Linked DNA regions of Homo sapiens: all the other regions are linked to region 2. Evidence: fine-mapped expression QTL. A gene starts in region 2. Each other region holds a variant in brackets. All regions are shown on one strand. Distances are between the middles of the regions. Region 1 overlaps AHDC1 (AT-hook DNA binding motif containing 1). Region 2 holds the start of TRNP1 (TMF1 regulated nuclear protein 1). Region 3 overlaps LOC101928391 (a long non-coding RNA gene).

Region 1 (10,442 bases), 570 kb after region 2:
CTCAGCTGCTCCTCGTTGTCCCACCTACTGGTCCCACCTACTTTGCTCTCTCCCAGGCCTGGCTGTGGACCTGGCCCCTCCCAGGTCAGGATCTCTCTAGTCCAAGAACTTGGAGCACTGTTGCCCTCACAGGGAGGACAGTGGGTGACACCCTCACAAACGAGAAAAGGGGCTCAGACTCTGGAACCTCCAAGTCCAATTTCCAACAGTGTGGTTGGGCCGTGGCTCCTGGCACCCACTTGGAGATGCCCACCAGAAGCCCCCTCCCTCCCTCCCTTACTGAGGGTCAGGCTAGCCGAGCCTTCCCCGCCCTGGAGACCTCCCAGCTGGGGCCTGAGGGTGTGATCTTGGCAGAAGAGAAAAACCTCCTCTCCGGTGGTGGCTTCTGTTCAACCCACCCGTGAAGACCTCTGGGCACGTCCTCCTGCCAGGCCTCCTGAGGCTGGCCACTGCTCTCTTTTGCAGCCTCCAGGATCTGAGGGAAACAGCTGGCTCCCCTCCTCACCACACCCCGGCGGCCATTCTCTTGGACCCCTCCCAAGGGTACCACCTAGCCCTGGTCTGTGGACAAAGTCAAAGGGGTACTTCTGTCTGCCTGTCTGCTGTTGGGTCAGTGTGTCTGAGCTTGCCCATAGGGACACCAGCTGGTTGGGAGGGGGCTGGGGGCCCCAACCTGCTGTGCACAGTGCCGGGAAGCGCCAGCCCACATCCTTGAGTCCCCAGCCCCACCCTCCCCGGCTGTGGCTGTGACCACCCCACCCCTTCCCCAGCCCTCCTTCCCCTCCCCCACCCACTGCCTCCCCAGGGGAGCCAGGCTGCCAGCCCCAGCTCTCACTTCCGGCCTCATGACCCTCTCTCCAGCTTGCACACTCCTCCTCCCCCACCATTTCCCTCCCAGCCTGGTTCGAAGGCCCTGGGATGTCCTCAAATGGAAAACACTGCATCAAAGGGGCCATTACTGCTGCTCTGAGACCTTCCCATCACCTCCCTTTTCCTCCAGGGGCCTTATCTCTCAGGATCTGTCCCTCAGGGACTAGTCATCACCTCTGTCCACCTCCTTCCCTTCAGCCGCCTACCTGCCCACACAGTAACACCTGAATATCTTCTTTCAACCTGATCCCAGGCACAATATCATAATACAAATAACAATGATGGCAATAATAATGGCAGCTGTCACTCATTTGGCATCATTTAAATAGAGGCACAGAGAGGTTAAGTTATGCCCTTAAGAACAAACAGCCATCTCATTCAATTAAGCTGGTGTCTGAATTTAGGTTGGGCTTCTGTAAATCAAACTTCTTTGGTGTCCAGAGATTCAGCGCCCTCCCCTGCAGCCTCCTACAACGGTCCTAGTCCCAACCATCAGTTCTAATTTTTGACTTCTAATCTATCCTCCTCTCAGCTTCTAGTCACCACCTCCCACCAACAGCCATCCAACTAGATGCACTACTCTCCCTCGCCACTAGGTGTCCCCTTGGAGCCACTGATGCCCCCAAGGGGAGCTGGCCCTGCCCCGCCCCCTGGGGCCATCAGGGCCCCCCCACAGCACAGCACAGCAGTGCACACCCCACCCCACCCTACCCCCAGCCACACAGAGCTCCTTTGTGCAACCCTCGCCCACCCCCTTCCTCCCTGGAACAGGGCACCTGGCAAGCAGGTCTGCCCCAGAACCGCCCCCTGCCAGCCCCCTGCCCTGGGTGCCAGGTGTGTGGGCGCCACCGCCAGCTCTGGCTGGACCCGAGGGTCACCCTGCCGGCGGCCCTCCCTTCCTCCCTCCGAGGTCACCCAGGGACTAAGCTTCCCGCCCTGCTCCGCCCCCCTCCCCTCCTGCCCTTGGCCCTTCCAGACTCCCGTCCTTGTCTTTCCTTCTGTCTCCCGGAGGACTCCCCTCCTCCAGCCCCACTAGGCCTTCCCTGCAGCCTCTCACCCCCGCCCACCTCCTTCCCCAGAGAGCTCCTTGTTCCACGCCCCCCCGCTCCCCGCCCAGGTCTGAAGAACTCCTCCTCCTGGAAAGTTGCTGCTGGAAAGGAAGTGACTTCAGCAATTTGGCCACAAGGCTGGGCACTGCTGAGCCCAGCTCAGCTCAAGGCTTGCCCAACCCACCTCCAAAGCACAAATGGAGCCACATGTGCACATCACTCCCACTGTGCACCCAGAACCCTGAGCACACACTTAGCCAGTGTACACACAGATCCCCGTGTGCATACACCGTACCATCGCAGTGTATTCAGATCTTGTCTATACACACATCTCTCCAGTGTACACTAGCACCCTTGCACACATGACATCCAGTGTGGCACACACAGTATCCCCACACCTGCCCAGTACACACCCAGAATCCTGCATATTCATACTTCCGGGTACCACATACACAGCCCTTGAACGCTCCCCAGCCCAGTCCACTTACACAACTCTTGTATATTACCCCATGTGCACGGAAGGACAGAGCCTTCCACACACACCTGCTTGCACACAAGCTTGAGTGCCCTGTACATTTACATTCGGATACACACAGCCTCGCATCCTCCCACAGCTGTACCTCCCCACCCTTACAATCCCAGGAGACTCCACCCCCAGACCTCAGGCCCCAGGAATGCTCCTTTGGAAGTAGGGTGGGGTCCCCAGGCAGGCTCAGCTCTAGGGAGCTTCCTGGAGCCGCAGGCTTCATGTGTCAGTTCAGGGAGTTGCCTCTGCAGGGCAGGGCAGCTTCACCTGGCTCTGCAGCTCCTGAGCCTGGGTGGGCTAACCTGGGCCAGGAGTAGGGAGGTGGGTCCTGCCACTGCCCCCGCCCCCTCCCTGTCCTGCAAGGGCACCTTAGCATACCTGGGCTACCCAGGCCCTCCCAGCACCTCACCTTGGCCTCCCAGTTCTCTGCTTCCACAGACTCCGGTAGAGAGGTGTCCTGGGGGGGTCAGCAGCTGCACACATCAGGCACTCTGGTTTCCACCTCTGCCCTGAGTCCTGGTCATTGTCACAACCCCTTTCTCCTCCCAGTTCTCTCAGGTCATCAAGGCGCAGGGAAGAGTCCTCAGGCTAGGAGGTAGGACTCACTGTATATCCATGAGCCTCAGTTCCCCTTTCTGGATAATGGGGAGTTTGAGTAAATGTTGGGTTAATATGTTTTGATTCTGTAAAGAAGCTCTTTTTGACCTAAGCTGGGAGGGGATCCCTGTTGGGACTGGGAGGCAAGTTCCCCTGATCCCCACTTCCTGGGGGTGGCCCAGGCCCAAGCCTGACTTCCCTGCACACTGTTACCTGAGCAGGCTGCGAAGATAGGCTGGGCTCAGCAGGAAAGGCCTGTCTTCATCAGCATCTCCAGGGTGGTCTCTGCAACGGCCTGAGCGTCGCCCCGCACTCGGGGCCCTCTGCACACGCTCAACTGGGTGGGCTCTGGGGTCCAGGCCGATGGGTTGACAATCAGGCAAGCTCCCATCTGTGGAAGCAAACACAGCACCACAGAGATAAGCATGGACACAGGGTAAGCCAGCCAGACAGCAGGGTGCAGGCGGACACTGAGCCAGGAAGCTCTCCTACATGGAGTCCCATCCACCTCCAACCTCATCGCATTATCCCACCTGGGAACTGTGAGACTCTTTTTAAAAAAAAAAATAAGAGAGACAGGGCCTCATCTCGTTTTGTGGCCCAGGTTGGAGTGCAGTGGCATGATCATAGCTCACTGCCTCCTTGAATTCCTGGGCTCAAGTGATCCTCCCACCTCAGCCTCCCGAGTAGCTGGGGCTACAGGTATGCACCACCATGCCTGGCTATTTTTTTTTTAAATTTTTTGTAGGGACAGGGTCTCACCATCTTGCCCAGGCTGGTCTCGAACTCCTGGGCTCAAGCAATCCTCCAGCCTCAGCCTCCCAAAGTGCTGGGATTGCAGGTATGAGCCACTGCACCAGCCAAACCTGTTTCTTGAAACCCCAGGCTCCTACTGAGAAGCAATGTTTTTGCACATCTATGTACACACATGCATATACATGCACATATACTATAGTGGAAGGAACCTGGCCTTTGGGAGTCTGACAGTCCTTGGCTCAACCTTCATAACTGTGTGACTCTGGGCAAGTCAGTTAACTTTTCTGGCTCTCAGTTTTCTCATGTATAAAATAGGAAAAGTGAGATCTTATGAATGGGGAGGAACATCTGGGGAAACTATAATGCAAACAGGTTACTGACAATGCAGATGTGAGAGGTGCTGTTCAGAGTGATGGTGGATGCGAATTTCCACAAGGGTGTATATGCAGCTGGCGTTTACCCATTTCCATCAGTAACTAGTTATGTCTCTTGTTTTCTTTAATAACCATGGCCCTCCTCACCACCCCCCTGCTTCCTGCCCATTTGTCTGCCTCCTCGAGGTCTGTACTGGAGCCCAGAGGGGGTCTGGGAACCAGGCCTCACGGATTGCTTATAGGTTCTGGTTGCCTGGGAGTTTGTATGCGTGTGATCGAGATTCTGCCTGTGCAAATGCATATCTGTCAAGGCTCAGCTGTCTGGGTAAATATACCTGTATGTGGGTTCCTGGGTCTATTTAGCCTGTTCGTGTGCTTCTCTGTATTTCTGTACGTCTGTGTGGGTACATGTGGGCTTAAGCGTGTCCATGTGTGGGATCACGCGTTTGCTCAGTTGTGGCTGCTGTGGTCAGCTGTGTGTGTGTATGTGTGATGCCAGCTTAAGTGTGTGCCTGGATTTGGTGTCTTCAGTCATACATGTGGGTATGTGCACTTTTCACGTTTATTTCTATTCGTTTTGTGTGTGTGTGTGTGTGTGTGTGAGTCTAGCTAAGCCTGTTTGTGTGTGAGGACACAGGGGTGCATGTGTGCCTGTGTGTAGCCAGGTGAGCCCAGCTGTGGCTGGGTGTGAGCATGCCTGGGTGTGCACACGCTTTGCCTGGCTCTCTGCATCTCGCTGTGTCAGGAGCCAAACCGGCTCCTGCCTGTCTCAGAGCTCTCTGGATGTGTGTTTGGCAGGGGGTGGGGGCGTGAGGCTGATCCTCTGCTGTCCCTGCAGGTTTCCAATCTCGAGGCCTGTGACTGCAGGCACTGGTGTCACTGTGGATCAGTGTTGCCTCCCTCCCACCTCTGCCTTTCTCTGGGTTTTCAG[G/T]GTCATGGTGTGGCAGTGTGACTGGCCACAGTGTCCCTGTGGGTCTCTTTCACCATGGGTCAGTATGTGCTCGTGTGTGTGTCCATGCATGTGTGGATTTGTGTGACCTTATTGTGTGTCTGTGTACCACAGCGTGTCTCTGTGTATGTCAGTGGGTCCTTGTGCTATGTCACTGTATGATTGTGCCAGTATGGCCGTGTGTCAGCGTCAACATGTGTGAGCAGGTCTGTGTGCCATGGTGTGTCAGCACAACGGTGCCCCAGGGTTTGTGTGGTACCTTTGTGAAGGGCTCAGTGTGTGAGTGCGTGTGTGCATGCATGTGAGATACCCTTTGTGAGACGGTGTGTGTGTGTCTGTGTCACTGTGTTTGTGTGTGCCTGCTTCCCTCTTCCCTCCCTCTCCCTCCCTTCCTCTCTCTCTCTCTCTGTAGGAGCCAGACAACTCCCCAAGCCTGGATTAGGGACAATTTATCCACAGGCAGAGAAGGAGAATTCCAACCTGCCAGAGCCTCCCTCCTCTGATCTGTCCCCCCTTTCCCTGTGGTTGGGTGGGCACAGAAACACAGCCCGGCAGCTCCCAAGCCCTTGGGGAGCCCCCACCTTTGCAGCTCCCCAGAGGCCCAGGAGGAAGGAAAAGATGGAAATCTGGGTGGCCCTAGAGCCCTCCAGTGGGGGTAGATTGGCTGCCCCCCATTCAGGCCCCCACAGCTCGGCTCATCTTGGCCCTGTTCTCCTACATATGGTGGTGGTGGGTGGGAGGAGTCTGCATGGGGTCTGCCTGGCCCTGAGTGTTGGGGGGGAACTTCAGGAGCAAAGCTGCCCTTAGCCCCTCCACAACCTGATACTCCCCAGCAGATAAACGTCAGGCCCCCACCCAGTGTAAATGAACTTCCAACAGTGCCCACACAGGCTGGGGGAGCTGCTGGGAGGCAGAGGACAGTGTGGTGGGGGGAACACAGCAAGGAGGGGTGCAGGGGCTGGGCTGGGACTAAGGCTCCCTTCACGGTGCTCCAGGCGCAAGGCAGAATCACATGTTTCCCATTAGCTGCTCTGGCCTCCTTGTTCAGGGGGTGTTGGCTGGGGGAGATTTGTTCTGGTTGCAGACACCAGCCGAGACCACACAAGAGAGAGAGAGGAAAAGACAGAGAGAGAGAGCGTGCCAGAGGGAGAGAGGAAAAGACAGAGAGGAAGAGGGAGAAAGATACACAGGGAGACACAGAGACATGGGGAGAGAAACAGAGACAGAGAGACAGAGAAAGACAGAAACTGGAAGACGGGCACGCACAAACACAAAAGCAGAGACGGACTGGTGATGAGGGGCTCATGGAAGAAGGGAGATGGAGAGGAAGGTAGAGAGAGGCGGGTGAGACCTTGTCAGAGGCTGAGGGGAGGGGGTAGCTCAGGCCCAGAGTGAGTCTGAGGCCAGTAAGGACCAAGGAAGAGCCCCAGAGGGGAGAGAGGCACGGGGGAAGCGAGCCAGGCAGAGATGGGAAAGGCAGGAGAGAGCAGGGACCAGGGGTTTCTGCAGGAGCCTGAGAAAGAGGCAGCGAAGCAGAGGCAGGGTGGGCCGGGGAGAAGGGCCGAGGGGAGGCCTGTGTGGGCAGTAGACAGGCCAGAGCTGGGATGTGTGGGCAGGGGGAGTGGACGCGCCCAAGCTGGCTCGGCGGGGGCGGCCAGTGCGCCAAGCCTCCCGCCTCCTGACCCCCGAGCCTGGGAGAGATAACAGGCCCGAATAGTGCTGACTTGCGGTTCAGAAATCCAATATCCTCCCCGGTGCACTGATCGACTGACTACCTGAGCTCCCGGCCCGCGCAGAGCTGCCCCGATTAATCCTGTGGCTCCAGAGCCTTAATTAGTTTAACAGTTTCAGGGGCAGGAGAGGCAGGAAATAGGGTCCCCAGGCCCTCAGGGACACAGCCCCCTGCCTCCCATGCAAACCCTGCCTTGGTGCCCCACCTCACAGACACACACCTGCCCTGGCCCTAAAGGCCCTTCTCCACACCATCTGAAGAATGCTGGGTCCCTCCCCCTGGGGAACAGTCCCACGGGCTGACATATGGGTGAGAGGGTAGATCATGCGGGACTGAGCACCCCCCAGCTCCCACTTGTCCCTCTGCTCAGGGCCCTAAGCATTTCCTCTGGCCAGCCCTTTGGGGCTCTGTGGTCTGCATGGGAAGGCCCCACCAGCTGCCAGCCCCGTATCACCAGAAAACATGTCGTCTCTTTAGAGTGAGACACGAGCTCCCAAGTTACTGACAACTTCCCAACAGCATGAGAGAATCACACATGCCACTCCCCACAACAGCCTGCGACGGGCACATGGTGACATCTCACACACACAACAGCCAGAGACAGGCGCACAAGTTGGTGACAACCCTCCTAACGGGATGAACTAAGCACATAACCTGTCGCTTCCTCCAAACATGAGATGGGCACACCTGACACACCCTCGACAGCATGGGGCAGGCGTCTGTTACCCCTCACAGTGGCATAACTGACACGCAACCAGGCACCCCCACACCCACTAATGCACAGAGAACCTGTTACACAGCTGACCAAGACACACACACACGCACGCACGCATGCATGCACACACCCACACAAAGAACCTGTCACATAGTTGACCAAGACACACACACATGCACACACACACAGAACCTGTCACACAGCTGACCAAGACACACACACACGCACGCATGCATGCACACACCCACACAAAGAACCTGTCACATAGTTGACCAAGACACACACACATGCACACACACACAGAACCTGTCACACAGCTGACCAAGACACACACACACACACACACACACGTGGGACAAGTCCCATCTTCCAGGTGTGAGGAAGGCATGGACCCCTCCACCCACCACACAGCATGAGGCAGGGACATAACCTCGCCCCTGCCTGGGAATCCTCCCTGCAGACTGTGGGATGGGTACACAACATGTCACCTCCCCGGCTGCCTTGGACAGGTGACAGCCCACCTCACCCCTCCCCCATCACTGTCACCAGCCTGGGTGGTGCCGTCCCTCTGCCTGCAGAGGCGTCACAGCTCACACGGCATGAATGTCACCCCAGCACTGCCAGAGCCGGGCACAGCCACACATTGCCCCAGTGACAAACACCACTGGCCCCAGAGGAGGTGAAGGCACACAGGGCTCTGGTGTGACCTTGGCCTCTGGACACCAGGAGGGGAGGTGCTGTGGCTTCCCGCCCAGTGGCGGGTGCTGGGGGAGAGGAGTGCTGGGGAGGAAGCTGCCTGGACACACTGACTACCTGGAAATGCCACCTCCCCCAGCCCTCACTCCACTCCATTTCTTATTCACTGTAGTTGTGTATCTAGGGAGGGGGCTGAATGAGTGGTGGAGGGAGGGCTGTCCTGAGGCGCTGTTACTATGAGACTGCTTAGAGATCAGTGGGGAGTAGGGCGGTTAGGGGTTGCTATCACCATGTGCTCAGTGGGAAGAGTATGGGATAATGGCTTGAGACCCCCATAGCTTCCAGGGGAGCCCTTCTTCCTTACAAAGGCCCCCTCTCCAAACTTCAGGCCACAGAGCTGGGGACAAGGAGGCCAAAGTCCAGGAACATGACTCACCCAGGGAACAGGCCCAGCCTGCTGGCCATAGTGGTGAGGGAGGCCAAGAGCCAAGAGGCCTGGGTTCCAGTCTGAGCTCCTCCAGGGCCAAGCTGGGTGACCTTGGAGCAGCAGCTCAGCCTCTTTGGCTTCGGGGAGGGGGGAAGGGGCCGCAGTGAGAGAAGTGCCAGGGTCAGAAAGAAGAAGCTGAAGCTGGAGACCAGCAGGCAGAACTTCAGGCCACAGAGGGCTCCAGCCCGCCTCCCCTGCTCCCCTGCTTCCTCACAAGGAACCTCATCTTCCTCATCTGTACAAAAGGGACAAGAGTGCCAGCCTCATGAGACAAGGTAGCATAAAGTGGGCCGCTCCTCAAGAAATGGGAAGCTTCTGATTGAAGAGAGGGAGAAATAGACTAAGAGACTTGCCCAAGCCACAGAGCAAATTAGGATCAGCTGAACTCAGCCTCCATCTCCTGGCTCCCCACCTGGAGCTGTTTCTTTAAGACTGCTTGGAGGTCAAGTGTGGAGGGGGACAGGGGAGATGTTGGGGTGTTGTTGGATGCAGTGCCTCCCTGCCGCCCGATGAAGACCAATGAATCTGATAGGAGTCCACCATGCCCTACCTTTACCCTAAACCCCACTTGGCCCAAAGCTTGGACAAGAGGAGTGGCTCTAAGGGGAGGGAGGCACCCCACCTCCCACCCCATCATGACCAGCAGCAGCACCTGGTGCTTGGAAGGACTAGAGGACCTGAGATGTCAGTGTCTAGGGCCCCTCGTTTTACAGGAGCCCAGAGAGGGAAAGGCCTAGCCTGAGGTCACACAGCACGACAGCACAAGAGCCTAGAGTCCTGGCCACGGACAGCCTCAGAGCAGAGTCCCCCTAGCCCCTGGGGGTGGCTGGAGCTGGGGGGCCCTGGGGGACTGAGTAAAGCGTGGCGACAGATGGCCTGCCGAGGCAGCGGCGATCTGGGCGGCTGGCAGGCATGCTCGCTCCCGCGCAGGGAAGCGGCTAATTTTAGCTGAGGCCTCGATGCCAGCTTTGTTCCCCCCACCCACCCGCCGAGGGGGCCCAGCATGCCTTGCGTGCAACCTGCCTCCCCCAGGCACCCCTACTCCCCCGCCTGGCCCCTTGGTGAGTAGTGCCCAGACCCCAGGATCCTAGAACGGTCTGCCTGACCAGGCCTCACCACACCCAGAGGTGAGGCCTGACTCCCCTACCCCAGGGCCTGTTTGCCCACGACTCCAAGCTCATTCCATGAAGAGGGGCGAGAGAGGAAGGACAGAGGCCACTGCCCAGACTGGGAGGGCGGGCCAGACAGCAGGGGCTGCCAGTCTTGAAGGGAGGCGAGGCACTGTCCTCCACCCAACCCTTAAGGAGACAGGACCCTGATTCCACCCATGCCCTGGACAAACATTCTGTCTGGTGTCCCCCGGCGCTGGTGAGCAAGGGGCGGGAGTCACTCTAGTCTTTCCTTGTTCCTCATAACTTTGAGTTTGTTCCAGGAACTCAAAGCACTTTAAAGAAGTCAGACATGAAGCAAGGATAGTATCCCTATACCATCTGGGGAAACTGAGGCACAGTCTGAACTTGCCATCATTTTAGCAAGGGAAGGGACAAATCCCAAGAATCAGTGAGGCCTGTTCTCTAGAGAGCTTCTTGGGCCAGTTTAGCTCCTGGAACTATCTTCTGTTCCTACCCTGGGCTAGTGGAAGGTAGACTAGATGGATGGAGCCCATCCCCTAAAACCCTGGAAAGGCAGAC
Region 2 (10,390 bases):
GGTGTGAGCCACCGTGCCTGACCCATATAAAAGCTCTTGATATAACAATGGAGAGAAAGGAGCAAGGAGGAGAAGAAGAATGAGGAAGCATTGAATCAGGTGTTCACTGGCAGGCAGGAACACTGACAGGTGTGTAGGGCAACCAGAGACCTTGTGGGGAGGGCAGGGGAGTCTGTTAAGGAAAGGGAAGGTGGAGGCTGGGGCCTGACTGGGTTATTTTCGGAGCTGCTATCTTTGTCTGCATCTGCTAAATTATTAAACTGAGATCACTTCCTAGAGGGTGCCAGGCCAGGTTGCCAGGGAGAGGCTGAAAGGGAGAGGTTGGATCTCTTAGCAGAGGACTCAAATATTCTAGGCTGGGATGGACATATACTCCTCAGGCCTTGACCCCTTCCCCACCCCACTCTCAGCTAATGGAGGGGATTGGGGATCCTGCTTGGGGCCACAGCCACAGTCACTGTCCCCTCCACAAGGCTGTCTCTTCTGGCTGCTGTCCTGGAGGCAATAGATACATACTGGACCAGACTCTGGAACCTGGTCCCATCTCAGCTGCCTCTTCTCTTTCAGGGTCTCAAACTCAGGCCACAGGTTTTGAGTCAGATAGATACGACCAGATATGACCATAGATATGTGAGATCTTGGGCATATCCTTGCATGAGTCAATGTCCTTGTCTATGCCATAGATATTAGCCGTTCCACTTCTCAGATGAAAACCCTGACGTTCAGAGAACAAAGGTGCCTCTCTCAGGGTTGCATAGCTAGAAAAGGACTGAACTTCGATTCAAACATAAGTCTTTCTGATTTCAGGCTCCTTTCCTCTATTCTTTCTTTTTTAAATTTTTTTGAGATGGAGTTTCGCTCTTGTTGCCCAGGCTGGAGTGCAATGATGTGATTTCGGCTCACTGCAACCTCTCCCTCCTGGGTTCAAGAAATTCTGCCTCAGCCTCCCAAGTAGTTGAGATTACAGGCGTGCGCCACCACACCTGGCTAATTTTGTATTTTTAGTACAGATGGTGTTTCACCATGTTGGTCAGGCTGGTTTTGACCTCCTGACCTCAAGTGATCCACCTGCTTCGGCCTCCCAAAGTGCTGGGATTACAGGCGTGAGCCACCACGCCCAGGCTTTTTCTTTTCTTCTTCTTCTTGTTTTCTTTCTTTTTTTTTTTTTAAAGATACAGGGTCGGCTGGGTGAATACTAAGAATACAAAAATTAGCCAGGTGTCGTGGCGGGCGCCTGTAATCCCAGCTGCTCAGGAGGCTGAGGCAGGAGAATTGCTTGAACCTGGGAGGCGGAGGTTGCAGTGAGTTGAGATCGCACCATTGCACTCCAGCCTGGGTGACACAGTGAGACTCCATCTCAAAAAAAAAAAAAAAAAAAAGAGAGAGAGAGGGTCTTTCTGTGTCTCCCAGGCCAGAGTACAGTGGTGCAGACGCTGCTCACTGCAGCCTCAAACTCCTGGGCTCAAGGGGTCCTCCTGCCTCAGCCTCCCATGTAGCTACAGGCGTGCACCACCAAATCTGGCTAATTTTTTAAATTTTTCATAGAGACAGAGAGTCTTGCTATGTTGCCCAGGCTGGTCTCAAACTCCTGGACTGAAGCAATCCTCCCATCTTGGCCTCCCAAAGTACAGGATTATAGGCACGAACCACTGTGCTTGGCCTATTATTTTTATTTTTTGAGATGAGGTCTTGCTCTGTCACCCAGGCTGGAGTGCAGTGGCAAGAGACAGCTCACTGCAGCCTCGACTTCCTGGGCTCAAGCGATCCTCCCACCTCAACCTCCTGAATAGCTGGGACTACAGGCATGCACCACCATGCCCAGGTAATTTATTTTTATTTTTCATAGAGATGAGGTCTCACCATATTGCCCAGGCTGGTCTTGAACTCCTAGTTGCTCAAGTGATCCTCCTGCCTCAGTCTCCCAAAGTGCTGGGATTACAGGCATAAGCCACCTTGCCTGACAGCCTATTCTTTTTCAGTATTTTAGTATTTTATCTGTCTTCCAGATTTTCTACAAAAGGAATGTACTCTATAACTTTTATAAAGATCAGAAAAACACAATAATCATTACAGTTATGGATGGATTTCTTCATTCCAGGTGTTGTGTTTGCTGGGCTGGATGTGCACTAATAGGTGGTAGACTGTGGCTCCTATCCACTCCGAGAGTGTGGTGCTCAGGCCAGTTAAGAAAGCTGACAAGAAGCTGGGCACAGTGGCTGACGCCTGTAATCCCAGCACTTTGGGAGGCAGAGGCGGGCGGATCGCTGGAGGTTGGGAGTTCGAGACCAGCCTGATCAACCTGGAGAAACCCTGTCTGTACTAAAAATACAAAATTAGCCAGGCGTGGTGGCTCATGCCTGTAATCCCAGCTATGCGGGAGGCTGAGGCAGGAGAATCGCTTGAATCTGGGAGGCGGACGTTGTAATGAGCTGAGATTGCACCACTGCCCTCCAGCCTGGGCAACAAGAGCAAGACTCCGTCTCAGAAAAAATAAATAAATAAATAAATAAATAAATAAAATAAAAAAGAATAAATGAATGAATGGAGAAGGGAACTCTCCATTCTCAGCAAGCTCTACCCTTGTGTTTTCTTTTCTTTCTTTCTTTCTTTTTTTTGAGACGGAGTCTCTCTCTGTTGCCCAGACTGGAGTGCAGTGGCGCAATCTCAGCTCATTGCAACCTCTCCCTCCTGGGTGCAAGCAATTCTCTGTCTCAGCCTCCCCAGTAGCTGGGATTACAGGTACCCGCCACCATGCCCGGGTAACTTTTTTGTATTTTTAGTAGAGATGTTTCACCATCTTGGCCAGGCTGATCTTGAACTCCTGACCTCGTGATCCACCCGCCTCTGCCTCCCAAAGTGCTGGGAATACAGAAGTGAGCCACCGCACCCGGCCTACCCTTGTGTTATTTTTATTTTTCTTCCTTCCTTCCTTCCTTCTTTCCTACCTTCTCTCTCTCTCTCTCTCTTTCCTTCCTTCCTTCCTTCCTTCCTTCCTTCCTTCCTTCCTTCTTTCTTTCTTTCTTCTTTTAATGGAGTCTTGCTCTGTTGCCCAAACTGGAGTGCAGTGGTGTGATCTTGGTTCACTGCAATCTCCGCCTCCTGGGTTCAAGTGATTCTGCTTCAGCCTCCCGAGTAGCTGGAATTATGGGCATGCACCACTACACCCGGTTAATTTTTCTTTTCTTTTCTTTTCTTTTCTCTTCTCTTCTCCTCTTCTCTCCTCTCTCTCTCTCTCTCTCTCTCTCTCTCTGTCTCCCCCCACCCCCGTCTCTCTCTCTCTCTCTCTTTCTTTTTTTTTTTGATATGGTGTCTTGCTCCTGTTGCCGAGGCTGGAGTGCAGTAGCGCAATCTCAGCTCACTGCAACCTCTGCCTCCCAGGTTCAAGCAATTCTCCTGCCTCAGCCTCCTGAGTAGCTGGGATTACAGATGTGCACCACCACGCCTGGCTAATTTTTGTATTTGTATTTGTATTTATTTATTTATTTATTGAGATGGAGTCTCGCTCTGTCGCCAGGCTGGAGTGCAGTGCCATGATCTCAGCTCACTACAACCTCCGCCTCCCGGGTTCAAGCGATTCTCCTGCCTCAGCCTCCTGAGAAGTCAGGACTACAGGCTTGCCCCACCACGCCCAGCTAATTTTTTGTATTTTTAGTAGAGGTGGGGTTTCATCATGTTGGCCAGGATGGTCTTGATCTCTTGGCCTCATCATCCACCCACCTCGGCCTCCCAAAGTGCTAGGATTACAGGTGTGAGCCACCGTCCCTGGCCATATTTTTGTATTTTTAGTAGAGATGGGGTTTCACCACATTGGCCAGGCTGGTCTTGAACTCCTGATCTCAGGTGATCCATCTGCCTCAGCCTCCCAAAGTGCTGGGATTACAGGCGTGAGCCACTGTGCACGGCCTAAATTTTTCAATTCAGACAAATGTTTATTGAGTGCTTTATGGGGCCAGGCACTCTGCTTGACTTCAGGGGATTCTAGTGATAAGCAAAACCAGTCAAGGGGGAGAGACTATTAATAATTAAACAATAAACAAATACATACATATGACTCATAGGAAATACCACAGAGGATAGCAACAGGGAGCATTGTCAGAGAACAGGGAGGTAAGGAGTGACCACGGAGTGGGTCATATCTGTGTTTGAATTCTTGCTTGGCCATTTACCTGCTGTGTGAACTTGGGCAAGCCTCTTCACTTCTCTGGACTTTGGTTTCTCATCAGGAAGAGACGGCTATCAATCTCCCTTTCTTAGGGATGATATCACGAGACAGAGAACATTCATTCCTTCAATAAATATATACTGTGCATCTTCTCCCACTCAGATAAATTACTTGCCCAAGGTCACCCAGATGGGCAGTGTGTGTTGGTTTTCAACCCGGGTCTGACTGGTTCTCTGGATCTGGCCAGTGGTTGGGGGTGGAGATAAGTCCTAGTCTTCTTCCCCTGAATCAGTCCTTGAGGAGTTGGGAGCAGTGATCTGCCTCATGAAGGCAAAACACCTGTCCATCTCCCCACCACCATGGCAATGAGGGGCTTCTGCCCTGAGAAAGACCTATGATTGCATGACACAAAAGAGACTGTTCAAAGGGACACCATCATTCAGCAGGGCAAGCCTCCTTGCTGGGGGCAACCTGGTAGCTCCTGAGCCTCCCTCATCTTCACTGAGCCCCTCCAACTCTCTGAGTTCCCATGCCCCTCACTGAACCTCCCTTCCCCCATGGCGAGCCTCCGCCAGCACCTTTGCACACACTCAGCCCCTTCCCCCTACTGAGCCCCAGCACAGTCACTGAACAGCTCTTCTTCCCCTCTGACTGAGTCATCCTCCCAAGCCCTCCCCTTCCCCTCACTGAGTCTCCACCACCCCTGGTCACTGGGCACCCTGCTTCTGACCTCCTCCCTCCCCCAACCCCTCCACCCTTCCTCTTCACTGAGCCTGGCGCCTCTCACCCACCCGCCTTCCTCTCCCAGCCGCTTCTGAGCTGCCTCTTTGGAGCCCAACTGTCTCGCCCACGAGTCCCCATCACTCAGTCTCACTCACTCTAAGACACCTGAAAGCAGTTAGAGAACATGTGTTCATGGGGGGAGGATGAGGCTCTATCATCATCCTGCACATCATGCAAGCACGCCATCTGCCTCCTCTTCAGGCTTCAGCAGTCACACTGGCCATACCTTCCGCAGGTCCTCCTGAGCCCAGGGTCTGCTGCAGTCCTTCCCAATCGGGTTCAGAGCTGGTTTCTGGACCCCTGGCCCTTGCCCCCACCCACCACAGAGACCTCCCATCTCTGATGCCACCTTCAAGTAGATGGAAACTGAGGCAGGCCCATGGTGTCTGAGCCAGTGTTTGGTATGGCAGGGTCATTTCTGTTGGGGGAAAAGTGGGCAGGGTTCCATTCTATCATTTTGTCAGGGCCAGATGAGAAGTGTCAGATAAAGTCCCACATAAAGAACGTCCCTCCACCAAGAGGACTAGACCCAGGTATCTGAGCCCCCAGAGGGCATGAATGGCTGAGCTCGTGCATTTCTGTCCAGATTCAAAAATCTGGATTCAGCCACCAGTCGTCAATAAGACATTGGGCAAAGCACTACTGCCCTTCAGGGTCTCAGTTTCCCCTTCTTTATTTTTTATTTTTATTTATTTTTTGAGACTGAGTCTTGCTCTGTCGCCCAGGCTGGAGTACAGTGGCACAATCTCTGCTCACTGCAACCTCTGCCTCCCGAATTCAAGCGATTCTCCTCCCTCAGCCTGCTGAGTAGCTGGAACTACAGAGGTGCGCCACCACACCTGGCTAATTTTTTTGTATTTTCAGTAGAGACAGGGGTTTCACCATGTTGGCCAGGCTGGTCTAGAACTCCTGACCTTAGGTGATCCACCCACCTCGGGCTCGCAAAGTGGTGGCGGAGCCACCGCGCCCCGCCAGTCAGTTCCCCGCCCCCGCACACCCCCCTTCCCCCTTCCCGCCCCCGGCTTTTTTTTTTTTTTTTTTTTGAGACGGAGTCTTGCTCTGTCGCCCAGGCTGGAGTTCAATGGCGCGATCTTGGCTCACTGTAGCCTCCGCCTCCCAGGTTCAAGCGATTCTCCTGCCTCAGCCTACCGAGTAGTTGGGATTACAGGCGCCTACCACGACGACCGGCTAATTTTTTTCTATTTTTAGTAAAGATGGGGTTTCGCCATGTTGCTCAGGCTGGTCTTGAACTCCTGGCCTCAGGTGATCCGACCGCCTTGACCTCCCAAAGTGCTGGGATTACAGGCGTGAGCCACCGCGCCCGGCCAGTTTCCCCCTCTTTAAAATGTGTAGGAACACCGGCTGGGAGGAGTAAACACGAGCCGGGGCAGGGAAAGAACTTTGCACACCGTGGGGTCCGGGGCTCCTCTGTGATGCCACCAAGGTTTGCAGGCTCAGCGGCAGCGCTGAGGTATTTGTTCTGCGAATAAAGCGCTCTACCTATCGTGGAATCAGTCCAGCTAGATCCCCGTCCCACCAGGACGGCAGTCGCCCCTCTGCGTTAACCCTTCCACTGCCCTAGTGAGGTGGGAAAGGGGGTCCTTGAGAGCCCTATGGCCCAGGAGAGACCGGGCAGAACTGATTCGGCCAAGGGCAGCATGAGGTGTGGGAGGAGCACGGCACAAGGAGTCAAGCCTCCTGCGTTCTAGCCCAGGCTCTCTTCGCACAGAGGCCTTAGGCAAGACCCTCCCCCGGATGGAGACCGGATTCCGTGAATTTCTAAACACCAGCTACCAGAGCTTATGACTCTGAGGGGCCAAACCAGGGAAGATGAGGCTCCCTTTGCACCCAAAATTTGGGGAGAGGCGAAAGGGGACCGGATGCCCTAGCGGAGCAGAATCCGGCGAAGGGCAGGACCTGAAGGGTTTGGGGAATGCCCTGAATGTGCAGAGCGCGGGGGGGGGGGGGGGGGGCGGGGCGGATTCAGGGCGTGCCTGTCTCTGATTGGCTGTGCCGCCCGTCGCTCCGCCCCGTGTTCTATAAGATGCGCGGACGGCGGGCGCGCCTCTGGGGTGGGGGCTGTGGCCGTGTCTAGCTGTTCGGGTGTGCTGTGGTCATCCTCCCTGCGCACCTACAGCCGCAGACCGCCGGTGGGGGGCGGGGGATGCCGGGCTGCCGCATCAGCGCCTGCGGCCCGGGGGCCCAGGAGGGGACGGCAGAGCAGAGGTCGCCGCCGCCGCCCTGGGATCCCATGCCGTCCTCTCAGCCCCCGCCCCCAACTCCGACCTTGACTCCTACCCCGACCCCGGGTCAGTCCCCGCCGCTGCCGGACGCAGCTGGGGCTTCAGCAGGCGCGGCCGAGGACCAGGAGCTGCAGCGCTGGCGCCAGGGCGCTAGCGGGATCGCGGGGCTCGCCGGCCCCGGAGGGGGCTCTGGCGCGGCTGCGGGGGCGGGGGGCCGCGCGCTGGAGCTGGCCGAAGCACGGCGGCGGCTGCTGGAGGTGGAGGGCCGCCGGCGCCTGGTGTCGGAGCTGGAGAGCCGCGTGCTGCAGCTGCACCGCGTTTTCTTGGCGGCCGAGCTGCGCCTGGCGCACCGCGCGGAGAGCCTGAGCCGCCTGAGCGGCGGCGTGGCGCAGGCCGAGCTCTACCTGGCGGCTCACGGGTCGCGCCTCAAGAAGGGCCCGCGCCGCGGCCGCCGCGGCCGACCCCCCGCGCTGCTGGCCTCGGCGCTGGGCCTGGGCGGCTGCGTGCCCTGGGGTGCCGGGCGACTGCGGCGCGGCCACGGCCCCGAGCCCGACTCGCCCTTCCGCCGCAGCCCGCCCCGCGGCCCCGCCTCCCCGCAGCGCTGACCTCCACGCCCGGACCCCTGGCCACCCCGACAAGCTTCGCCGAGGTGCCGACCGACCGACTGATCGCGGACGCCGGCTGGAAGGACTACGGATCCGCAGGAAGAGGCAGTTGGGGGCCAGGGGCCCAGTAGAGGAGGCTGAGGTGCGGTCTTAGCGGCTGGTGCGTTCGAGGGTCGGTCATGGCGTGTGGGGGGCTGGTCCAGGGCCCGGGAACTCCCTTCCCTGGAGCTTCTGGCGTCTGCTGGGTCCCTAGTAAAGCTGCCACTTTCTGTTGCCGCCTCTCCCGACCATCTGGAGAGTGAGAGGTGGTAGCATCAAGTCTCCATTATAAGAGTTGGACTCTTGAGGGGGCTCAGATCCCAGGAACGGGTTGGCGGCAAACTTTTACCACTTGGAACCTGCCGCACGGATGCAGCACCCCCCATCCTCACCCCCACTTGCGTGGCCTTTCCCGGGCCCCTCGGAGCTGTGAGCAGTCTTGCCCTTGAGGATGCTGCTTCCTGGCGCCGCCCAGCTCCGTGCCTTCGGGAGGACAGAATAATGAGGCCCCAGGATGGGGTGGAGGCTGGCACAGGGCTGTACCACTGAATTCCCCCTCTAGGCCTGTTTCACCTTTGGGGAGACGGAATCCCAGAGAGGTTTAGGATTTGTTCTCTTCATACTTAGGCCCTTCTTCTTCTAGGAGACAGCTTTTCTTATGCCGTCATGCAGGTTCGCAAAAATTACAGCCTGACTCACATAACCAGGACAGGATGTCTGGCACCTGCTCACCCAGGGATCCTTACATAGCAGAACCTAGAGGCTTAACTCCCAACCTGTTACTAAGATGGCTCGGCCAGGTTGGAACCAGGTGATACCCTTTAACAGGCCCCAAGGGGGCAGGTGTGGTATCAGCTTCCAGAAAGGGGGGCCTTAAAGAGCCAGATCTGAGGTGAGATCTGCTTCTCTTCCTGTCCAGATGCCCTTCAGTCTCCCATTCCTCTGTCCCCACTGTGAATGACCTGGCTACCACATTGCTGCTCACCAGCTGAGTTAATTTCACTCTCACTTATCAGTCTGCGAAGTGGATCTCTTAACCTCCCAGAGGGGCTGTGGTGACGTTAACCCAGGGCAGAGGTCCTTCTTCTTCCTCACTAAATCATGGAAAGATAATTTTTTTGTTGTTGTTGTTTGTTTTGAGACAGTGTTTCGCTCTTGTTGCCCAGGCTGAAGTGCAATGGTGCGATCTTGGCTCACTGCAACCTCCACCTCCCGGATTCAAGCGATTCTCCTGCCTCAGCCTCCCAAGTAGCTGGGATTACAGGCATGTGCCACTATGCCCATCTCATTTTGTATTTTTGGTAGAGACCGGGTTTCTCCATGTTGGTCAGGCTGTTCTTGAACTCCCGACCTCCGGTGATCTGTCCGCTTCGGCCTCCCAAAGTGTTGGGATTACAGGTGTGAGCCACTGCACCTGGCTGATAATGTATTATTTTAACTCACACCTGGAAACAGGCACTGCTTTTGCTGATAGAGCCATGAGCTAATTTAAAGTCCTACTTTTGCAGGGTGGAGAGGGGATTTCTCAAGGTCACATGCCAGTGAGGGAAGAATCAAGGTCCCTGGCCTGTGTGTGCACCTCCCACAGTACCCTGGGCAGGGGCTAGGGAGAGTTGTCCTCTGGATCCTGTCTGCTCTGTGACTTAGAACAACTCTGCCCCCTCTCTGGGCCTCTTTCCTCAGTCCCTCCTTGAGTCAGGGCTTGGGAATGGGGTGAAGTGGGGAGGATGCTTCCTTCCACAGGAATCTGGGAGGGTCAGGTGCACTGCTCTGATAGGCTGAGGCTTGGGGCCCTTATGGGATCCTCCCTCATCAGCCCTTCTCCCTGGATACCAAACTTTTTGGCTGGTTTCTCGGCTAACAGCAAGGCTTTCCTGAACCCTTTCTTAGCTGGGGAAGGGAGGTTCAGGAGGGAGTCTCAGAGCCTCTGACAAAGTTAGGGAACCCCAGGGAAGTAATGAAGGGGGCAATGCCATCCTCTGGTCTTTCCAAACAGGGAACACCTTCCAAAGCCACTTGGGTCATTTGGGGTCTAGAGGCTTAGAGAGGACAGGACATCTTGGAAAGAGCTGAGCTCAGGCCTTGGTGCTGGGCTGCAGCCAGGACCATTTGTTTTCTGGGTTGCATGGGAGGGGGCACTTGGTCCGGAGAAGCTTTTAGCTAATGGTGTAAAGTGCTCGGTGCCATCACAGTTTTGGCTTTCTCCAGGATTTATTTGTAATCAGCTTGTCCCGATTTGGGGGTGGGGTGGGTGAGTAGAGAATTAGAGACGACACTGGCTAGTGTGTGTGTGTGTGTGAAGTAGAGGGTAGTAAATGGAGATTGGTCCTGGTGTCACAGGCAGCTCTGCCCCCTCCCTCCACTTCCAGATGTCCCACTGCTCCTCATCAAGCTTCCTGGCCAGGGCACACACATGTAGACTTGAACCCCAGCTCCTAGTTAGTGCTATGTCCATTACCACATAGCCAACTAACAAAAGGCACCTCCCACACCTGCCTGACCCTCCAGGGCCCCCTCTAGAAGCTCACCCGTCTGGCTTTATTCAGGCTGGGTGCGGT
Region 3 (10,442 bases), 77 kb after region 2:
GCCTGCCTTGGCCTCCCGAAGAGCCGAGATTGCAGCCTCTGCCCGGCCGCCACCCCGTCTGGGAAGTGAGGAGCGTCTCTGCTTGGCCGCCCATCGTCTGGGATATGAGGAGCCCCTCTGCCTGGCTGCCCAGTCTGGAGGGTGAGGAGTGTCTCTGCCCGGCCGCCATCCCATCTAGGAAGCGAGGAGCGCCTCTTCCCCGCCGCCATCCCATCTAGGAAGTGAGGAGCGTCTCTGCCCGGCCGCCCATCGTCTGAGATGTGGGGAGCGCCTCTGCCCCGCCGCCCTGTCTGGGATGTGAGGAGCGCCTCTGCTGGGCCGCAACCCTGTCTGGGAGGTGAGGAGCGTCTCTGCCCGGCCGCTCCGTCTGAGAAGTGAGGAAACCCTCTGCCTGGCAACCGCCCCGTCTGAGAAGTGAGGAGCCCCTCCGTCCGGCAACCACCCTGTCTGGGAAGTGAGGAGCGTCTCCGCCCGGCAGCCACCCCGTCCGGGAGGGAGGTGGGGGGGGTCAGCCCCCCGCCCGGCCAGCCGCCCCGTCCGGGAGGTGAGGGGCTCCTCTGCCCGGCCGCCCCTACTGGGAAGTGAGGAGCCCCTCTGCCCGGCCAGTCGCCCCGTCCAGGAGGGAGGTGAGGGGGTCAGCCCCCCGCCCGGCCAGCCGCCCCGTCCGGAAGGGGGGGGGGGTCAGCCCCCCGCCCGGCCAGCCGCCCCGTCCGGGAGGGAGGTGGGGGGATCAGCCCCCCGCCTGGCCAGCCGCCCTGTCCGGGAGGTGAGGGGCGCCTCTGCCCGGCCGCCCCTACTGGGAAGTGAGGAGCCCCTCTGCCCGGCCAGCCGCCCCGTCCGGGAGGGAGGCGGGGGGGGGTCGGCCAGCCGCCCCGTCCGGGAGGGAGGTGGGGGGGTCAGCCCCCCTTCCGGCCGGCCGCCCCGTCCGGGAGGTGAGGGGCGCCTCTGCCCGGCCGCCCCTACTGGGAAGTGAGGACCCCTCTGCCCGGCCAGCCGCCCCGTCCGGGAGGGAGGTGGGGGGGACAGCCCCCCGCCCGGCCGGCCGCCCTATCCAGGAGGTGAGGGGCGCCTCTGCCCGGCCGCCCCTACTGGGAAGTGAGGAGCCCCTCTGCCTGGCCAGCCGCCCCGTCCGGGAGGGAGGTGGGGGGGACAGCCCCCCGCCCGGCCAGCCGCCCCATCCGGGAGGTGAGGGGCGCTTCTGCCCGGCCGCCCCTACTGGGAAGTGAGGAGCCCCTCTGCCCGGCCACAACCCCGTCTGGGAGGTGTGCCCAGCGGCTCATTGGGGATGGGCCATGATGACAATGGCGGTTTTGTGGAATAGAAAGGCGGGAAGGGTGGGGAAAAGATTGAGAAATCGGATGGTTGCCGGGTCTGTGTGGATAGAAGTAGACATGGGAGACTTTTCATTTTGTTCTGTACTAAGAAAAATTCTTCTGCCTTGGGATCCTGTTGATCTGTGACCTTATCCCCAACCCTGTGCTCTCTGAAACATGTGCTGTGTCCACTCAGGGTTAAATGGATTAAGGGCGGTGCAAGATGTGCTTTGTTAAACAGATGCTTGAAGGCAGCATGCTCGTTAAGAGTCATCACCACTCCCTAATCTTAAGTACCCAGGGACACAAACACTGCGGAAGGCCGCAGGGTCCTCTGCCTAGGAAAACCAGAGACCTTTGTTCACTTGTTTATCTGCTGACCTTCCCTCCACTATTGTCCTATGACCCTGCCAAATCCCCCTCTGCGAGAAACACCCAAGAATGATCAATAAAAAAAAAAAAAATAAATAAAAAATAAAGGCACTGAAAAAAAAAAAAAAAACAAACAAACTCATTCTTGTGGTGTCAGCCCACAGAGCCGTCACCTTAGATAGGCTCTGCCCTTCTTGGGACCCTAGGCTCCTGGATCTGTTGCAGTATGAGTGGGGTGGGAGGGGTGGTCATTTGAGGGATGTAGACACCTGATAATTATGGTTAAGAATTTGTAGGCCGGGTGCAGTGGCTCACGCCTATAATCCCAGCACTCTGGGGGGCTGAGGCGGACGGATCACAAGGTCAGGAGTTCAAGACCAGCCTGACCAACATGGTGAAACCCCATCTCTACTAAAAATACAAAAATTAGCTGGGCATGGTGGCATGAGCCTATAATCTCAGCTACTCAGGAGGATGAGGCAGGAGAATCGCTTGAACCCAGGATGAGGAGGTTGCAGTGAGCCGAGATGGCGCCAATGCACTCCAACCTGGGCAAAAAAAAAAAAAAAAAAAAAAAAAAATTTGCATATTCAAATTCCTGCTCTGACACTTACCAGCTATGAGACCTTTGGCAAGTACCTAAGCTTTGTGAGTCTCCATTTATTTTTGTTTAGAGATGGGGTCTCGCTCTGTTGCCCAGGCTAGATTGCAGTTGCATGATCATAACTCACTGTAACTTAGAACTCCTGGACTCAAGTAATCCTCCCGCCTCAGCCTCCCAAGTAGCTGGGACTATAGGTTCATGCCACCATGCCTATGCCTGGCTAATTAAAAAAATTTTTTTTTTTGTAGAGACAGAATCTCACTATGTTGCCCAGGCTGGTCTCAAACTCCAGGCCTCAAGAGATCCTCCTGCCTCAGCTTCTCAAAGTGCTGGGATTACAGGCATGAGCCACAACATTCAGCCCGAGTCTTAGTTTCTTTGTGGGTACAATGAAGATCTTGGCAGTTGTCAGGGTCAAATGGCAGAATATATGTAAAGTCCTTAGCATGGTGCCTGGCACATGGTAAGCACTTATTAAATAATGGTTGTCATTATTAATTCAACAAGCATTTACTGAACATCCTCGTGGTACCCGGCACTGTGTCAGAAGCAGACCCACTGGCAGTGCCAGAGCCCAGCAATTGCACCTCGAGGCTCCAAACACACACAGACTTAAGAATTCAGCAGAACAAGAAGCCAGAGTTAGAAGTTCCCTGAGAACAAAAATCTCTGGAGTGTACAGAGGATGGAGGGAGGGCTTCGCATGACCCAGGGCATGGGATGGGGCTTGAGGAAAACTTGCCTCAGTCCCGTGAGCACCCCTGCCGACACCCAGTTTATAGACATGGCAGAGTGTGCCCCCTCCTCCTGGCTGGCAGAGGCCTGACTCTGTGAAGGTGTTGGGGCAACATCCCCAGGTGGAGGGGGTGAATTTTGTTTGGTCCTAATTAAATATGGCTTCCATTCCTTTTTTATTTTCGTTTGTTTGTTTTGAGACAGTCTCACTCTGTTGCCCAGGCTGCAGTGCAGTGGTATGATCTTGACTCACTGAAACCTCCGTCTCCTGGGTTCAAACAATTCTCCCACCTCAGCCTCCCGAGTAGCTGGGATTACAGGTGCCCACTACCACACCCGGCTAATTTTTGTATTTTTAGTAGGGATGGGGTTTCACCATGTTGACCAGGCTGGTCTCGAACTCTTGACCTCAAGTGATCTGCCAGCCTCAGCCTCCCAAAGAGCTGAGATTACAGGTGTGAGCCACCGCGCCCCACCACATTCCCTTTCATTAGCAAAGAACTTGCTCAGAGTCATGCAGGTAGTAAGCAGGCAAAGCTCATGTTTCAATCTGTGTAGTTTGGGTTCAGGGGTGGGTTGTGTGTGTCCCTGTTCCAGAAGATAAGAAATAGTAGGACCAGGCTGGGCACGGTGGCTCATGCCTGTAATCCCAGCACTTTGGGAGGCCGAGGTGGGCAGACCACGAGGTCAAGAGTTCAAGACCAGCCTGACCAACAGGGCGAAACCCTGTCTCTACTAAAAATACAAAAAACTAGCTGGTTGTGGTGGCGCATGCCTGTAACCCCAACTACTCAGGAGGCTAAGGCAGGAGAATTGCTTGAACCAGGGAGGCAGAGGTTGCAGTGAGCTGAGATCGCGCCACTGTACTCCAGCCTGGGTGATACAGCGAGACTCCATCTCAAAAAAAAAAAAAAAAAAAATAGTAGGTCCAACCTCACAGAACTGTGGGAGGAATTAGGCTTAGAACTGTAACTGGCACTCAGGAAGTACACAACTGAGGTTAGCCGATTTTAT[G/A]TTTAGCTTGCACCATCTTCTCCCTCTCTCTGTTTCTCTGTTTTTCTCTGTTTCAGCTTCCTTTTTTTTTTTTTTTTTTGAGACGGAGTCTTGCTCTGTCACCCAGGCTGGAGTGCAGTGGCGCCATCTCGGCTCACTGCAAGCTCCGCCTCCCGGGTTCACGCCATTCGGCTGCCTCAGCCACCCGAGTAGCTGGGACTACAGGTGCCCATCACCATGCCCGGCTAATTTTTTTGTATTTTTAGTAGAGATGGGGTTTCACCGTGTTAGCCAGGATGGTCTCGATCTCCTGACCTCGTGATCCGTCTGCCTCGGTTTCCCAAAGTGCTGGCATTACAGGCGTGAGCTACCGCACCTGGCCTTTCTTTTTTTTTGAGACAGAGTTTCGCTCTTGTTGCCCAGGCTGGAGTACAATGGCACGATCTCGGCTCACTGCAACCTCCGCCTCCCGGGTTCAAGCGATTCTCCTGCCTCAGCCTCCCAAGTGGCTGGGATTACAGGCGTTAGCCACCACGCCTGGCTAATTTTTGTATTTTTAGTAGAGACGGGGTTTCACCCTGTTGGTCAAGCTGGTCTCGAACTCCTGACCTCAGGTGATCCACCTGCCTCGGCCTCCCGAAGTGCTGGGATTACAGGTGTGAGCCACTGTGCCCAGCCTGTTTCAGCTTCTTTAGACACTCTTTGTGTGCCTTAAGTCACTATTTACAAAAAATTAAATACATCTCTACATTTTCCCACCTCCCTTGCAGTAGCTCTAGCCAAAATAACTAAGTTCTGGCACGTAGAAGTGGCATATGCAACTTTCAAGAACTGCCCTTAAACGGAGGCAATGTGTCTTTCTCCTCCCCTTTCTTCTTTCCTGCTGCATGAAATGTAGGCATGATGGCTCGAGCTGGAGCAGCTATTTTGGGCCATGAGACAAAAGACAAATGCAGAGAATTTGGGAGCAACAAGACAGAAAAAGTCTAGGTCCCTAATGATTGTGGCATCACTGTGCCAGCCTGGACTGTATTCCTAGAGAGAATAAAATTTAAATGAGAGCAACAAAATTCTATCACATTTAGGCTTCTGTTATTCAGGTATCCATCATTCGTAGCTGAAATGAATCCAGATTAATGCTGGAGTAGAACTTGGATTTAGACCCAGGCTTGCCTGACCCTGAGAAACTCCACCAGTGTTTCTTAAAGTGTTGATGGGTGACTACCTGAATCAGAATCACGGTGAGAAGCGTGTTTAAAACACAGATTATAGGCCAGGTGCAGTGGCTCACATCTATCATCCTAGCACTTTGGGAGGCTGAGGAGGGAGGCTCACTTGAGCCTGGCAGTTTGAGACCAGGCTGGGCAACATAGCAAGATCCCATCTCTACAAAAGAATTTTTTTTTTTTTTTAAGACAGAGTCTGGCTGTCGCCCAGGCTGGAGTGCAGTGGCGCCATCTCAGCTCACTGCAATCTCCACCTCCCAGGTTCAAGTGATTCTCCTGCCTCAGCCTCCCAAGTAGCTATGATTACAGATGCACGCCACCACATGCTTGGCTACTTTTTTTCGTTGTTGTTCATTTGTTTTTTTTGAGACGGAGTCTTGCTCTGTCGTCCAGGCTGGAGTGCAGTGGCGTGATCTCGGCTCACTACAACCTTCACCTCCTGGGTTCAAGCAGTTCTCTGCCTCAGCCTCCCAAGTAGCTGGGATTATAGACACCCGCCACCACGCCCAGCTAATTTTTGTATTTTTAGTAGTGATGAGGTTTCACCATCTTGGCCAGGCTGGTCTTGATCTCCTGACCTCGTGATCCACCCACCTCGGTCTCCCAAAGTGCTGGGATTACAGGCATGAACCACTGCGCCCAGCCTTTTTTTGTATTTTTAGTAGAGACGGGGTTTCACCATGTTGGCCAGGCTGGTCTCGAACTCCTGACCTCAAGTGATCTGTCTGCTTTGGCCTCCCAGAGTGCTGGGATTACAGGAGTAAGCCACTATGTCCAGCCCCTACACAAATTTTTTAATTAGCTAGGCATGGTGGCGCACACCTCTCTACAGTCCCAGCTACTCGGGAGGCTGAGGCAGGAGGATCACTTGAGCCCAGGAGTTTGGGGTTGAAGTGAGTGCCACTGCATTCCAGCCTGGGTGACAGAAGTAGACCCTGTCTCTAAAAAAAATAAATAAAATAAAATGTCTATTCTGGTATACCACTCAGCTCTGCTGAATTAGACTCTCTAGAGCTGGGACCTGGGCAGTTCTCCTTTAACCACGTTCTCCATGCAGAGGACTTCAAGGCACACTCAAGTTGGAGACCACAGGGCTTCATTCTGTGTCCTCATGTAACTCTTAAGAAAATCAGGAGTCCATTCCGAACCCTTGGGTGAACTGAAGGCAGGTGGAGATCAGGGGACTTGGGGGAGGCAGTGAGGGTGGAGGGCAGGGGTCAAGCACCCAGGGCCTCAGGTCATCTGTGTCCATCCCCTGAGGCAGGCTCTGGGCAGCCCTCCCTGAGGAGGTAGCCCTGTCCCCAGGGCCCTGGATGGTGAGGATGACCCAGCCTTCGTAACCCTGCCCTCACACACAGCGCTCACTCCAAAGCTTGCTGGAATCATCTGAGGCTACCAGTGTCTACAGCACATCGAGCTACCCTTATGGAGCCTGGGACCAGCCCCAGGAAGCCAATCTCAGCTCAGGAGCCAGGATTTTAGTGCAAAGCTGCGCCCCCTTCTGTAAACCATGGTTCTCCTGAGAAACAGCTCATGCCTTTGGTAAGCTCCTGGGCCCTGGGGAGATGGAACACCTGACTTGCGGCACCTGGGGACCATGTGACCAGAGCTGAGCACTGTCTGACCTTGCCACAAAGTCAGGTGTGCCCAACGGTTTCTGTCATCAAGGGGAGAAAGTACACGTGGGTGAGGGCTGAGCGCAGGCATGTCCTGAAGCCCAGCTGAGCCTCTCAGCAGGCAGCTCCTTCCCCAGAGTCCCTTCTCCAGCTTCCCAAAGCCCCTGCGTCCGCCCATACCTTGGGCACAGGTCCCTAAGACCAACTGAACACTCGAGCATGAGCCAGGCAGACAGCCTGGGTGGATGCCAGCAGAAAGATTGGTGAAGACTGGATCTCCTGGGCAGAAGCGGTGACAGGCACATGGCGTCCAGTGTGAGGCTGGAGGCATCAGGGAGCACAGGGATGCAAGCCCCTCTACGTTCTCCCTTGTCATGGCTGGGTGTGAGAATGACCTTAGGCAATGGGGTGGGGCATGAATATTTTGAGCTTGTGCCAGCTGTGTGGTGGAGCGTGGGCCTGTACGGAGGCACTGCACTCCCATCTCCCTCGGCTCCCAACTCCCTCCGTGGGAAGCTGAGTTCAGGCACTGCCCCTCCTGTATGGACAGGGAGCCACTGGTCCCAGCTTGCTGGTTGCCAGGCAACCCAGGATGAGCCTTCGAGGTCATTCCTCAGACAACTCTGAGCTCTCTCCACAGCCTGGGAACAGATGGTTCCGCAGCAGCCAGCCCCAGCCTGAAATGAGTTGCGGAGGCACTGCTGCCTGTCTCCACCAGCAAGAGGGAGGAGAGGCCCTTCCCGTGCCTGCAGCAGTCCAGGGTAGATGCAAGCAGAAAGACTGGTGAAGACTGGAGCTCCTGGGCAGAAGCACTGACAGGCACGTGGGGTCCTGTATGAAGAGCTGCACTTTGTGTGAAAGGAAAGGTGGCCCAAGGTCTGGCTCTACTTCAGCCGGGGCAGTGGCTGGTGGTCTTGCCGGGTGGGCCAGTCTTGGGAGGGGGTGATGGGGAAGTTGGTGAAACAGAGGCACTGGGTCAGCAACTATGTGGTGGGACTCTCAGAAACGGCCCAGATTACAAGAGAATGCTTGACCCGAGTGACTGTTTACCAAAGCCCTCCCCCTCAAAAGAGGCTTTTAACAGTCAGGTGACACCTGTGGGTGTCACCATCTTCCCTTTCTCTATTATTAGGACCTGGACAAAATTCAAGAAGATGTCCCAACCACATGTAGCCTTACCTTTGATACTTCCAATTGCAATGAGACTTAAATTTTAGAATAAGAGATACACGCTGGGCGCGGTGGCTCACGTCTGTAATCCCAGCACTTTGGTAGGCCAAGGCCGGTGGATCACCTGAGGTCAGGAGTTTGAGACCAGCCTGGCTAACATGGCAAAACCCCGTGTCTAGTAAAAATACAAAAATTAGCCGAGCGTGGTAGTGCACGCCTGTAATCCCAGCTACTCAGGAGGTGGATGCAGGAGAATCGCTTGAACTCGGGAGGCGGAGGTTGCAGTGAGCCGAGATTGCACCACTGCACTCCAGCCTGGGTGACAGAGCAAGACTTTCTCAAAAAAATAAAAAAATAAAATAATAATAATAAAAAGAGGATACAGACCATTTACAGGGTTTTTCCTGGTCCATTATCCTGCTCTAATAATGCCAATCAACATGTGATCATTATTCCCTGGGGACAGAACTAGTCACCACTAGTTTGTGACTCTACCTCATTTGAGGTGGCATCCAGGGTGACATCCCAGACTTCCTTACCTTACTTGAAGCACGATGAGCCTTAATTTTCGAATAGAAATGTTGACCAGCAAGCCAGCTTTTTTTTTTTTTTTTCCAGGACAAGGATAAATTCCCTTAAGAATTTTGCAAACATCACATGTTTTCTTTCCCCTTGTTGCAATATATGTAATTTATCTCCTGGTGTAACTTGCTTAATAGTTACCGTTTGTTAATTCCATCTGCTTCCCAAGAGGAGAACATACTGTTACGTGGTGAAGTCCTGGGTTCTGTGAGTCTCCCATAAGCCACAGCTGGTCAAGAAACGAATCAATGGGGCCACGAACAAAGTGGCCATGGAAGCAGGTATGGGTGAAGGCATGAGGGCAGGCACGGGGGCAGGCAAGGGGGCAGGCAAGGGGGCAGGCACGGAGGCAGGTATGGAGGCAGGTATGGAGGCAGGCATGGAGGCAGGCATGGGGGCAGGCATGGGGGCAGGTACGGGGGCAGGTACGGGGGCAGGCACGGAGGCAGGCACGGAGGCAGGTATGGGGGCAGGCATGGGGGCAGGCATGGGGGCAGGCATGGAGGCAGGTATGGGGGCAGGCACGGAGGCAGGTATGGGGGCAGGCACGGAGGCAGGCATGGAGGCAGGCATGGGGGGCAGGCATGGAGGCAGGTATGGAGGCAGGTATGGGGGCAGGCATGGGGGCAGGTAAGGAGGCAGGCATGGAGGCAGGTAAGGAGGCAGGCATGGGGGCAGGTATGGGGGCAGGCATGGAGGTTTTGCCCAGCTTCTCCAGTACGACCTTCCCTCACCAAAGCCAACCTGGTTGCCATCACCTCTGAGTGGCCACACCTGAGCCCTTGTGGCTCAGCCAGCCAGCTGGTGACTGCCTGGTTACACAAACATTTTCCTTCATGGAAGACAGCAATTTGTCCTCCTTCGATGGATCCTTGTTGTCGAGCTGGACTTGCGTTTCCATCCTCCCTCTGCACTTCCAATCAGGGTCTCACTGAAGGGCACCTGTTGGGTGTCCTACAGGACATTGCCTCCTGCCGAGAAGCTCATGCTTCTGTGAAGGCTGCAGAGGTGTGAAACAGTGGGCCAGGCCAGACACAGTGGCTCTCGCCTATAATCCCAGCACTTTGGGAGGCTGAGGCAGGTGGATCACCTGAGGTCCGAGGTTCAAGATCAGCCTGGCCAACATGGTGAAACCCCATCTCTACTAAAAATATAAAAATTAGCTGGGCATGGTGGCAGGTGCCTGTAGTCCCAGCTACTCAGGAGGCTGAGGCAGAAGAATCACTTGAACCTGGGAGGTGGAGGCTGCAGTGAGCCGAGATCATGCCACTGCACTCCAGCCTGGGCAACAGAGTGAGACTCCATCTCAAAAACATAAAGAACAAAAAAACCAACAACAACAACAACAACAATGAACAGTGGGCCGGTCCCTGTGGGGCTCATTGGACTTTCCTTATACCCATGACCCTGGGTTAGGTGGTCTCTGCATGGTGAACTGCCCTGGCAGCCAAGTCACACCACCTTGGAAGCCTGCAGATCTGCAGAAGGGGGCATATGCTCTGTGCCAGTAACAACATGTGATACGGCCGGGTGTGGTGACTCCGTGACTGAAATCCCAGCACTTTGTGAGGCCAAGGTGGGAGGATTGCTTGAGCACAGGAGTTTAAGACCAGCCTGGGCAATGTAGTGAGACCCCGTCTCTAAAAAAAAAAAAATTAGCCAGGTGTAGTGGCACACACCTGTAGTCTCAGGTACTTGGGCAGCTGAGGTGGGTGGATCACCCGAGCCTATAAGGTCAAGGCTGCAGTTAGCCATGATCACACCACTGCACTCCAACCTGGGCGACAGAGCAAGACCTTGTCTCAAAAAAACACATGATGCTGTTTCTCCT

What was found.
Region 1: its variant is fine-mapped to the expression of TRNP1 in tibial artery (GTEx, PIP 0.98).
Region 3: its variant is fine-mapped to the expression of TRNP1 in whole blood (INTERVAL, PIP above 0.99).

What each region holds. Positions count from the first base shown.
Region 1 is chr1:27,555,451-27,565,892 of GRCh38, forward strand. It overlaps AHDC1 (AT-hook DNA binding motif containing 1), which reads right to left. Exons shown (of 9, transcript NM_001371928.1): 4 at 3,256-3,433; 5 at 2,855-3,080. Among named protein-coding and RNA genes, the nearest start is that of AHDC1, 43 kb to the right of the region's middle. RefSeq lists enhancers at 1-520, 2,032-2,121, 7,424-8,151. The variant G/T (reference allele first, on the strand shown) is at 5,104.
Region 2 is chr1:26,986,678-26,997,067 of GRCh38, forward strand. It overlaps TRNP1 (TMF1 regulated nuclear protein 1), which reads left to right and starts at 7,015. Exons shown (of 2, transcript NM_001013642.3): 1 at 7,015-7,935. The coding sequence starts at 7,110. The coding sequence ends at 7,793. RefSeq lists enhancers at 4,001-4,295, 5,873-6,374, 6,375-6,874, 6,628-6,787, 7,012-7,512 and silencers at 6,928-7,257, 7,288-7,347.
Region 3 is chr1:27,063,779-27,074,220 of GRCh38, forward strand. It overlaps LOC101928391 (a long non-coding RNA gene), which reads left to right. Exons shown (of 8, transcript XR_007065559.1): 8 at 1-1,807. Among named protein-coding and RNA genes, the nearest start is that of TENT5B, 56 kb to the left of the region's middle. The variant G/A (reference allele first, on the strand shown) is at 4,039.